Homo sapiens: one gene and its partners. The protein of the gene in region 2 interacts with the protein of the main gene of each other region in a pairwise test. Each region holds a gene or a part of one and is shown on either strand. Other genes may lie near its edges. The genes, in order: ZC4H2, GTF2IRD1 and PKP1.

Region 1 (3,747 bases), on a different chromosome or scaffold from region 2:
CTAGATCAGTGATTCTCAAAATGTGGCCAAGGGATCAGCAGCATCAGCATCACCTGGGAACTCAGAAATGCATATTCTTAGGTTCACCTCAGACATACAAAATCAGAAAATCAGGGGTGGAGTCTAGCAATATGTGTCTTAGGCTCTCAAAGTGGCTTTGATGCATGCTCAAGTTTGAGATCCACTGGCTTATATTCTTAGCCCTTCTGGCAAATATCTTCCTCATTTAACTGGCCCTGTATCATTGGTTAGCTGGCAGCCAAACTGTCAACACTTTATGAGATCTAGAATTCTGCGATCTCTAACACAGAAAATCCCAATTGCTTACTGTCCAAACCTCATTCATATTTCCTTTATGATCCTAGGTCTGACAACATCAGAAAATGAGTATTGCCACAGAAATGAGTTTTCCAGAAATATAAACTTAGTTCCTTTGAAAGTAAATTTTAAAAATATATTCTTCATGGTTATGGGTGATAAGGGTTTGAAAAGACCTTACTGGTCAGCACTGCCAACCTCCTTCCTTGTGAAGGAATCATCAGTACAGTAGCTCATACAAGTGTCCATTAAGATGCTGCTTGAATAATTCCAAAGAGGGGAGCTTACCACCTTAGCAGACAGTTCATATTCTGTGTTCCAAGAGTTTCCAAAGGATATATCAATGAGGAAGCTCCACTTTGGTAGCAGGCAGAAATGATTTGTTTGGTCTGACTGAAAGCTTGGAGTGCTTTAAACTACATTCCAGAGGCAGCTGCCTGCTCTGCTTTTCCCCAAGGCTAGCTCTCAACTCCCAGAATCCCAGAATGAGAGCACATCAAATCAGTACATTTAGAGGGTACTGAGTCCCCCTTATAGTGCAGAGAGGGAAAATGAGGCCCAGAGAGAAGGGACTTGTCCAGTGATATATAGTCAGTTAGTGACAGAGCCAGGGCTGGATCTCAGAACTCCTGAATTCTTCTGCTCTACCACAGCCTGCACTGATGCCTGCTCCCCGAGCTAGGCCTAAGCCACATCTCAAGGAAAGGCCCTATCATTCACCACTACCTCTTTCTCAAAGGCTTTAGAGATAGGCTCCAGGCAGCCACGTACCACATTGATGTCAGCGTGGATCAGTCGGAGTTCCTCCACATGGGCCATCTTCTCCTGTAGCAGAAGGTCCATCTCCTGCTTGTATTCCTTCAGGTGCCTTTCCTCTGACTCAAGTGCCTCAAACTCAGCCTTCAAACGAGCCTTGATCTTCTCCATCTGCAGGGTCTTGTTCCTGCAATTTGCAAAAAGCAGGAAACAGGCCAGCAAAAGAAGGGAGAAAATAGAAATGGAGCCAGGACTTTTTTTCTAAGCCATCTTTACAAGCTTCCCCCTCTCCAGGCAGAGCCAACCTGAGGCCATCTCAAAAAAGAAGGCCAGGTGCAATGGCTCATGCCAGTAATCTCAGCAATTTGGAAGACAGAGGCAGGAGGATCACTTGAGCCCAGGAGTTTGAAACCAGCATGGGCAACATAGTGAGACCTTATATCTACAAAAAAAAAAAAGAAAAAGAAAAAAGAAAAAAAAAAGAAAAAGAAAAAGAAAAAGAAAGAAAGAAAGAAAGAATTAGCCACACATGGTGGTACATGCCAGTAGTCTCAACTACTCAGGAGGATAAGGCAGGAGGATTGCTTAAGCTATGATTGCACTACTGCACTCCAACCTAGGTGACAGAGCAAGACCTTGTCTCAAGAAAAAGTTAGGAGATGTTTCCCTCTAAAAGCTCAGTGGGTCTCGAATGGGGTTAATTTTGTTCCCTTATGGGGCATTTGCAAATATGGAGTGTTTTGGCTGTTAGATTGACTCAAGGAAATGTGTTACTGGCATTTAGTGGACATGGGCCAGAGATGCTAAATAGCCTCTCAATGCCCAGGAAAGTCCTGAACACAAAGAACTCCCACCCAAGAAACCAAAAATGATCTCTTGAGAAACTCTAAGTAAGCACTGTCCAATAAACTTACTACAGTGATGGAAATGTTTTGTATCTGTGCTGTCCAGTATAATAGCCACTATGCACATATGGCTACTGAGCACTTGTGATGTGGCCAGTGCTACTGAGGAACTGAGTTTTGAATTTTATTTAATCAAACTTAAAATTTAAACAGCCACGTGTGGCTACTGGCTGTCATATTAGACAGCACAACTCTAGAGGGTGTGTTTATCAGTTCCAGAAAAGGAAGGGGAAAGGATATTATGGGTAATTTCTTTCTTAGAAAAAGAAAAACCTGGTTTTGGTCATTAAATCCCAATTGTATACCGTGTGGCTCAGGAATCCTATACTTGGGAATATATTTTAAGGAGGTAATTCAAGGAAGCAAAAAGTTAATACACAGAGGTGTACTTTCTGGGCTTTCAGCAAAATTAGGATATTTGACAGCCACTGAAGACTTGTGACATAGAAAATGTTGAAGATAAGATACTCGCTGAAAAAGTGTACACACTAAGATTACAATTTCAAAACATACATGGATGTGACTAAATAAGAAAAAGATTTGGAAGAAACACAGTTTCAAGGGCCTTTAATAACATAATTTGAAGCCTGCCTCTGGGAAAGGGCTACAAAGTTTTGAAAGGGGTACCCTCTAAGGCATGTTGTTGTCTTCCCACTGGCTCCCTACCATGCTTCTCAGGATCTGCCTAGCCATTATCCCCTTACTCAGATTTGTAGTCTCCTTTCTTCTCCCTCAGTAGCTGATCTTCCCCTCTGCCCCAGTCTATCCTATGGGTGATCCAACTCCACACACTGGACTCTGGCTTCTGCCATCAGCCTGCTTGTCTTCAGTCTCTCTTTTCTTGACATTGCCTGTGCCTCTTGCCTCAAGAGGTAGCCTTCAATGGCACAGAACTACAGAAAGAACTGTTAGGTGGGTAGGATGGTGGGAGAAGTTTCTCTTTCTATACTAAGAAAACATCTTTTCATGTTATTGTATTTTTTTTTTTTTTGTAACCTTAGAAATGGGTTAAAAGGTGGGTGTTATCCCATTTGTAGAGAAGGGAATTGAGTGAGGTTCAGGGTGGTAACTTGCCCAGTACCACAGAGCTAGTAAATTGGATGTTGGGATTTGAACCAGGGCTCTCTAACACCAAAGCCTACATACCATCCATACCATCCACTACTCTATATTGCCTTTGAACAGGGTTACCAGGCTGAAGGGCATAAAAACATCAAGGGTTCTTGTTATAGCTCATCAACTGTCTTGCAGAGGGAAGATACTGATTTGTATTGGTTAATTACTTATTTGCTTATATCCCCATCTATCTAGACTTCTATTCTCCTCCTTTTCTAGGTTACGTGAAGATAAACCTGAACTTTGCCTGCTCCTGTAACCATTTTACCGATGGGAAAACTAAGATTCAGAGTAGTATAGTGTCTCACCCTAAGTGTCATACAACCAGTTAGGGCAGTGCTGGGCCAAGAACCTATTTCTGCAGACAAAGTCATATCATAAAAGAAGCATGCGCTTTAGACTCAGACTTCAATTATAAATCCTGGTTCTGCCTCTGATTAACTATTTGCTTTTGGACAATAATAACAACTGTATTTTAACTATATTTATTGAGCACTTACTATGTATTAATTATAGAGGGTTTCAATATATATTCAGTCAATAATTATTTATTGAATACTTATCATGTGCCAGGCATTCATTGTACTAGGTACTAGGGATAGAGCAGAGAACAAGACAGTATATAGACAGCAAGTTTCATCTAATGAAGAAA
Region 2 (3,747 bases):
TGACATAAGAACAGCAGAAGTTTCCTCACAGACCTTTGCTCCATAAAACCAAAGGCTACAGTAGGAGAAGGGATAAAGCCAAATCAGAAATGAATGAGGTGGGACCCTGAGCACCAAAGGGACCTGCCCGATGTTTCCCAGGGCGTGTGAAGACCACCACTGGGGCCCTGAGGCCCTCTGCAACCTGACGCTTCCCAAGGGAGGCCAGGTCTCCTCTTCCTGCAGGAAAGACATGGCTGAGCAATCAGCCTTCACTTAGTCATTCAACAAACATTCTCCAAGCACCTGCTGTTGCTGGGCTCTGAACTGTAGGCTGGAGACAGCTAGAAAGGGCAGACACAGCCCCTGACTCTGGAGAGCTCTTGGGCTGGAGAGGGGACAGGGCACTGTGGGTGCCAAGAGAGGGGCCTAAACCCACTGTGAGGGGGCTTCCAGGAGCAGAGCCTCAGTGCCACGCAGGTGTCTGCCAGACACAGGAGGGGAAAGGCAGTCTCAAAAGATGTAACAGCGCGAAGTCCAGGGCATGTGAAATGCACCAGCGAGTGCTGGAGAACTGGAAGTGGTTCTGTAGAGAGGTCAGTAGGGCCCTGTCACCTAGTGGGAGAAGAAGGTGTGGAGGGGATGAGGATGGGTGTGTGGGCCCCTGTGCCATGCTCAGGGTGATGGGGAGCCCCCGAAGGCTGTGGAGAGAAGAGCTTCATTAATGATCAGACTTGTGCTTTGAGAAGATACCCTTGGTTGCAGGGCAGGTGTAGAGAGCTGGTCTGGAAGCAGGGAGACCGTGGCAAGCCTGGGGCTATTTCTAGGCGAGAGGTGGCAGTGACTTGAGCCAGGGCAGGGACAGTAGGGGTGGAGGTTTGGAAAACGGCTGGAGCAGAACTTCTGTGTCTGGGAATGCAGAGATGAGGAAGGGCTGGGGTAGCCAGTAGCCCCATGCCTTGGGGTCCGGCTTTGCCCAGGGCCCATAGTGGGACAGGAGGGGGCCCCCTCTGCTGGGTGGGGACCGAGGCTCCCACCCTCCCTGGGGCCCCCAAATGGAATGAGGAAGGATCTTACTATAAAGAACATCAAACACCTCCTCTACCATCTTCCGCAGAAGGTACACATCTGAGCCATGTTCCAGGGAGGACCGAGGGAGGCTACGGCCTCCACCCTCGCCCCGCTGCACCTTCTTGGGGTGCTCTGCCTCCGGATCCTTCCACGGGGGCCCTCCTGTGGGACACAGAGCACGCGAGGCCACAGTGAGCACCCGTCTCACCACCCGGCCTTCGAGCTGGGATGTCGCTGCCCTGTGCTGAGCTGCGGAGACTGGCACACAATGTGATACACAAGTGAATGAATGAATGAAGAATTAATGAGTGAGCAAGCCCTATTCCAACCACCCCACTGAGGGCCAGGGCTGGTCATCTCAGAGTTCCCAGGGCTGGGCCTCACCTCTGGTCACCTCTAATTTGCTGTGTGACCTTGGGTTAGTCCCTTCTCTCTCTGAGCCTCAGTCTGTGAATGTTCACGGGAGGCCAGCTATTCCAGCTCAGAACTGAGGTTCGATGAATGTTCCATCTGTGTCTTTCTATTTTTTTTTTTTTTTTTTTTTTTGAGACAGAGTCTCGCTCTGTTGCCCAGGCTGGAGTGCAGTGGCACAAGCTTGGCTCACTACAACCTCCACCTCCAGGGTTCAAGTGATTCTCCTGCCTCAGCCTCCCGAGTAGCTGGGATTATAGGCGCCTGCCACCTTACCCAGCTAATTTTTGTATTTTTAGTAGAGATGGGGTCTCACCATGTTGGCCAGGCTGGTCTCGAACTCCTGACCAAAGTGCTGGGATTACAGGTGTGAGCTACCATGCCCGGCCCCATCCATGCCTTTCTGTGCTCTGACACGAACACTGTCTTGACCAATCTATGCCACCGTTTTCTGCTCTGCCGGAGGGAGAGAAAACCCTCCGGCAGAGGGTTGGGAGGCACCCCCCAACCCCTGCTCCAAGGAGGCCGTGGGTTGCAAACAGCAGGTTCATGCCAGGCTGGGCCAGGGTGGGGACCGGAGAGTGTTGGTGGATCCTTGGGGAATGTTCTAGAAGCTGCATTGGAAAGGAGATGAGAGGAGGGGCCTGCGGCCCCCTCCCAGCTTGGAGCCTATTCTCCTCTGGGATCTGCGGAGCTTGAAATAAACCAGCCGAGTTCCTGGTGCTATAAATAGCGGCTCTGCGTGGCTCTAGAAGGCAGGTGCACCGCCTCAGGCTCTGGGCGGCTGGGGTGCCACACGACCTGCTGCTGTCCATTCTACCCGGCCCAGTCCCCCATCCTGGCCCTGGAGAAGGTCTAGGCTCTGAGGGCTGAGGGGGGTGGGGGGCTGGCTGGGGATGCGGCTGCACCCCAGTAATGCTAGGCCCAGCGCTGGGGGATGCCCTTCCCTGAAACAGCTGATCTTAGGGGTGTGAGGTGAATACTAATAATAGTAACAACAGCTGGTGTCTATTGAGTGTGAACCAAGTGCCAGACACTGCCCTAAGTGCTTGCAAGGTACCAATTCGTTTAACCCTCAGACCCACCCGTCCTCCCCTTTCACAGATGAGTGGGTTGAGGCACAGCAGTTGTGGACCCAGGCGGCCCGTTCTCTTAACCTCATGCTATACCATGGTTCTTTTGAGATGGGGACTCACTGTCACCCAGGCTGGAGTGCAGGGGTGCCATCGTAGCTCACTGTAGTCTTGAACTCCCAGGCTCAAGTGATCCTCCTGCCTCAGCCTCTCAAGCAGCTGGGACTACAGGTGTACACCATCAAGCCTGGTTAATTTTTAAATTTTTTGTAGAGACAGAGGCCTTGCTATGTTGCCCAGCCTGGTCTCCAACTCCTGGGCTCAAGTGATCCTCCCATTTCAGCCTCCCGAAGTGCTAGGACTACAGACATGAGCCACTGCACCTGGCCTAAGATGTTAACCCTGACTATAGCCATGACAGTGCCTGCCCCCTCAGGTTGATGTCAGGGTAGGTGAGTTAGCATCAGAAAAGATGCTATGTACAGCAGGCATTCAATAAATCTTATTGGAACATGGCCAGGCATGGCGGCTCACATCTGTAATCCCAGCACTTTGGGAGGCTGAGGTGGGCGGGTCACCTGAGGTCAGGAGTTCGAGACCAGCCTGGCCAACAAGGTGAAACCCCGTCTCTACTAAAAATACAAAATTAGTTGGGCGTGGTGGTAGGTGCCTGTAATCCCAGCTGCTCGGGAAGCTGAGGCAGGAGAATCACTTGAACCTGGGAGGCAGAGGTTGCAGTGAGCCAAAATTGTGCCACTGCACTCCAGCCTGGGTGACAGGGCAAGACTCTGTCTCATTTAAAGAAAAAAAAAATTGTGTTGGCATAAGTGCATTTGGTCCTTGTGTTCAGGAATACATAGTTAAGAGGAAGAACTGAGCAGCAGCCTTGGCCTTGGTGTCCCCATCTGGAAAAGGCAGATGGAAGTGGCTGGCTCTGGCCTACCCTGGGGTTCACCCAGCCAGTCTCTATCAACTCAGGGGCTGCCTCAATAACACCACATCGGGAATCTCAGACAACCTAGCTTGTTAGGTTCACTCCCCACACACCGCCACCCTGGCTAGACAGGGTTGGGGACCCAGAGATGGGCTAGAGCGCCTGCCCTCGGGAAATGGCGGGCCCGGCCCTCCGGAGCCCTGGGGTACTCACGGCAGAACCTGAGGAAGTCTGACTGTAGCTCCTTCCGGGCATTCAGGAACATTCTCCCCTTCTCTG
Region 3 (3,747 bases), on a different chromosome or scaffold from region 2:
GGAGGTTTGCCAAAGGAGATTGACAAAGATCTGAGCCCAGCTGCCATGATGAAGCCCTGGGCTCCAGGTGTTGCTGTGTTTTGTGTGGACTTAGCACCGCTGACATTGACAGCTAAGGACTGGCCCCAGGAAGAAAGAATGATGGGGGCACTAGATGGCTTTGGAATCTAGAGGCATGGGGCTTCTTCTGGAGGAGTTTGTTCTGGAAAAAAAAAAAGACACATTCTTCAATATCCCAGTCTGCCCATTGGCATGTTGTCCATAGCAGTCCTACCACACACTAGGCCCTGTGATAAGTGCTTTCTCTGTATCATCTTCCAAATAGCCTAGTGAAATGGACAATTGTAGTCTCATTTTACATTTGAGATAGCTGAGGCCCAGAGAAGTGAGGCCAGTCAAGTTCATGCAGCCAGGAAATGACAGATTCAAACTCAGGTCCCAGAGGTGGCCCTGGAAGACTTCCCAGGCTGATAGTGTGGTGGTGCCTGCGCTCATCTTTCCCGATGCAGCCCAGGTGCCTCTGCTCTCTTATTAGCTAGGGTAGGTGGTAGGCCAGGAGCCTGTCGGGCCGGGCAGAGGCTCAGGCCCATGCCTCTCCTTGGTCCCCAGTCTGTGGAAAACTGCATGTGTGTTCTGCACAACCTCTCCTACCGCCTGGACGCCGAGGTGCCCACCCGCTACCGCCAGCTGGAGTATAACGCCCGCAACGCCTACACCGAGAAGTCCTCCACTGGCTGCTTCAGCAACAAGAGCGACAAGATGATGGTGAGCACAGCATCAGCAGGGCGGGGCCTGCCCCATCAAGCACCCCCCCAGGAGCCACTGCCTCATCTGCCCTTTCCTCTGGGCCCTCCTGGAGCCTGAAGCCAGCCCTAAGGGACAGGCCCATGCTGACACCTTGGCCTGGGGCTCAGGGTGCACTCTGGGAGCTGGGTAGAGGCCATTCATCTTGCACAAGGGGGAATCTGTTCTTGGAACTGTAGGGGCTCAGACCACCTTAGAGGTCAAAAACTCCAGCCTTCTGTTTGCAGGCCTTGGTCTTTCTTCCTGTATAGTGGGTCAAGTCTCCCCCATCTTCTCCCTTGCCCTTGAGGATCTGAGGAAAGCCAGAACTCTCACTCTTTCTGGCCTTGGTTCCCACCATCTCCTGAGCCCTGCCAGGTTTCCCCAGAAGCAGAAGCCTACCAGGGATGGGTTGTCAGGTCTCCTTCACTGGGCCCAGCTGTGGAATCCAGGTCTCAGACCACCCTCTTTGGCCCAGGGTGGGTCAAACCTACTGTCTGAGTCTGGAAGAGGAGGAAGCATCATGATGGGAGAGTCCAAAGCAGCCCCACATATCTGGAAGGTTTGGGCCAAGGCTGCCCTGGAACACAGCTCCCAAGATGCCAGGATGCTCTCTTCTCCCACATCCTGGGACAGTCTGGGGGACCATGGCCCATTCCTGCATCCCATGGAGCTGCTGCAGTGCATAGAGGAAAGGGGTGCAGCGGGGCTGTCCTGGGCCCCCTGCCTCTGCAGGCGCTTCCTCAGCTTGCCCTATCTGGAACCACGACCCTGAGGCTGGGGGGATGGGGACAGAATGCCTGGGTTGTGTCCTCTCACAAGGCTCCCCATTGACCCCCCTGACCGGCTCTTTATCCTCAGAACAACAACTATGACTGCCCCCTGCCTGAGGAAGAGACCAACCCCAAGGGCAGCGGCTGGTTGTACCATTCAGATGCCATCCGCACCTACCTGAACCTCATGGGCAAGAGCAAGAAAGATGCTACCCTGGAGGCCTGTGCTGGTGCCCTGCAGAACCTGACAGCCAGCAAGGGGCTGGTGAGTGGGACTGTACCTTCTCTACTGCAGCAGCCCCATCCTCCAGCCACCGTCCAGCCTCTGCTCCCTCCTTTTCCCCCCAGCCTGTCCCCTGACTTCGGAGCCTCCCATGAGCAGAGTGTGCCTGGCATATGCTGGGCTCTGGGCTGGGCAATGGGGAAACACTCCTGCCCTTTAGGAGCTGCTGGGGGATGCAGAGAGGGTGGGCCCACTGATGCTGGATTCTGTCCATGCACACACAATCCCCTTGGCCACATGGCTCCCGGTCCCCAGCTGGCCTCCTGGGCTCTGCTTGAGGTCGGGGAATGCGGCGGAGAAGGTGTTTGGCAAAAGGAGTTTCCCATTTGTTGAACTGACAAAGGTGGAAAAAGAGGGTTTGGGGTCCAAGCAGGTCCAGAGAAGATGTGACAGAATCCGTGCAGATGTTGAGGCCAAATGTATGTAGCTTGGAGGGCACAGTGGTATGGGGCAGAGCCAGAGGAAACCTGTTGCAATCAAGAAGAGTTGAGATGGGCCAGGCGGCCAACTGTTCTTCAGCTTTACTTAGGAAAAGGGAACCGAGCAGCAGCAGCACTAGAGTAGACCGAGGGCAGAGAACTTCCCTGGCTGTGAGGAGAGAGGCTGGGCAGTTCTGAGAATGCCAAACCCACCTAGACCTGTTACACCCAGGATAGCTATGTTGCTTAGAGGCCTGGGCGAACTGGCCTACCTCTAGGGGACCCCAGTTCTCTCTCCATGTGGGCCCAGACCCTTTCTTAGCCCTCTTTTCTCAGGCAAGCCCTCAACAAATATGTGTTGGATTCTAAAGAGGTAGGAAAGTTGGAAGAAGATGGCCAGATGTTTAATTGACAAATACCCTTGACCATATAGTTTCACATGGGCAGATAGCGTGGGGAGATGTAATGGGGGCAGCGCTGAGACAGTGGGGTGAGAGAGCAGCATTGGACGCTTGGGTTACTCTGGAAGCTAACTCTGGGTCACTATGAGTAGGGGAAATGAGACTTCCCTCTCTCCACCCATCTGGGCTGCAGGCTGATCCAGGAGACAGGATCAGGGCTGGGAAAGGGGAGGTGCATGTTAGCCTAGGTTTCTGTAGTTGCCCACATGTGAGCTAGTGCTTCCAATATGAAAGAGAAAGGGTTCTGGGATGTCTGCCTTTGGGGCTCCTTGCCCCTTTCTGCCTGCCATGGTGCCTGGGAAGCCACAGGCTAGCTCATCATCTACTCCTTCTCTCTTAGATGTCCAGTGGCATGAGCCAGTTGATTGGGCTGAAGGAAAAGGGCCTGCCACAAATTGCCCGCCTCCTGCAATCTGGCAACTCTGATGTGGTGCGGTCCGGAGCCTCCCTCCTGAGCAACATGTCCCGCCACCCTCTGCTGCACAGAGTGATGGGTAAGGTCCCTCTCTCTCCTCCCCCTCTAGCTAAGACATGGCAGGCTCCCTACAATTCAAGCCTGCTTGAAGGTCATCCTTTAAGCCATTCCCTGGGATGAGCATTCCAAGAAAGGAAGCTGGCCAAAGACAGGTATGGAGACAGGAGAAGGGAGCCTGTCACCTGAGGGCTGGGAGCAGATCTGCAAAAGTCCTATCTGGGTCTCTGAGCCCTGAGTTGGAGCTGCCAGGAAGCCCTGAGGGCCACCTGGCTCAGAGCCCGGCAGAAGGCTATCGAAGAGTGTGGCCCCAGAGGGAACCCCTCAGCCCTTCCTTCCCCAGTCATCCTGACCCTGTGCCCCAACTCGTTCCTCTCCCAGGGAACCAGGTGTTCCCGGAGGTGACCAGGCTCCTCACCAGCCACACTGGCAATACCAGCAACTCCGAAGACATCTTGTCCTCGGCCTGCTACACTGTGAGGAACCTGATGGCCTCGCAGCCACAACTGGCCAAGCAGTACTTCTCCAGCAGCATGCTCAACAACATCATCAACCT

The links.
Region 1: the proteins of GTF2IRD1 (region 2) and ZC4H2 interact in a two-hybrid assay, tested with the Homo sapiens proteins (one study listed by BioGRID and IntAct).
Region 3: the proteins of GTF2IRD1 (region 2) and PKP1 interact in a two-hybrid assay, tested with the Homo sapiens proteins (one study listed by BioGRID and IntAct).

The regions. Positions count from the first base shown.
Region 1 is NC_000023.11:64,920,728-64,924,474, forward strand, and holds part of ZC4H2 (zinc finger C4H2 domain-containing protein), read right to left. Parts: intron 1,517-3,747; exon of another isoform or gene 1,262-1,516; coding exon 1,090-1,261; intron 1-1,089. UniProt on the Homo sapiens protein: Plays a role in interneurons differentiation. Involved in neuronal development and in neuromuscular junction formation.
Region 2 is NC_000007.14:74,512,906-74,516,652, reverse strand, and holds part of GTF2IRD1 (general transcription factor II-I repeat domain-containing protein 1), read right to left. Parts: coding exon 3,682-3,747; intron 1,309-3,681; coding exon of another isoform or gene 1,213-1,308; coding exon 1,057-1,212; intron 1-1,056. UniProt on the Homo sapiens protein: May be a transcription regulator involved in cell-cycle progression and skeletal muscle differentiation. May repress GTF2I transcriptional functions, by preventing its nuclear residency, or by inhibiting its transcriptional activation.
Region 3 is NC_000001.11:201,321,369-201,325,115, forward strand, and holds part of PKP1 (plakophilin-1), read left to right. Parts: intron 1-609; coding exon 610-765; intron 766-1,644; coding exon 1,645-1,821; intron 1,822-3,059; coding exon 3,060-3,213; intron 3,214-3,572; coding exon 3,573-3,747. UniProt on the Homo sapiens protein: A component of desmosome cell-cell junctions which are required for positive regulation of cellular adhesion.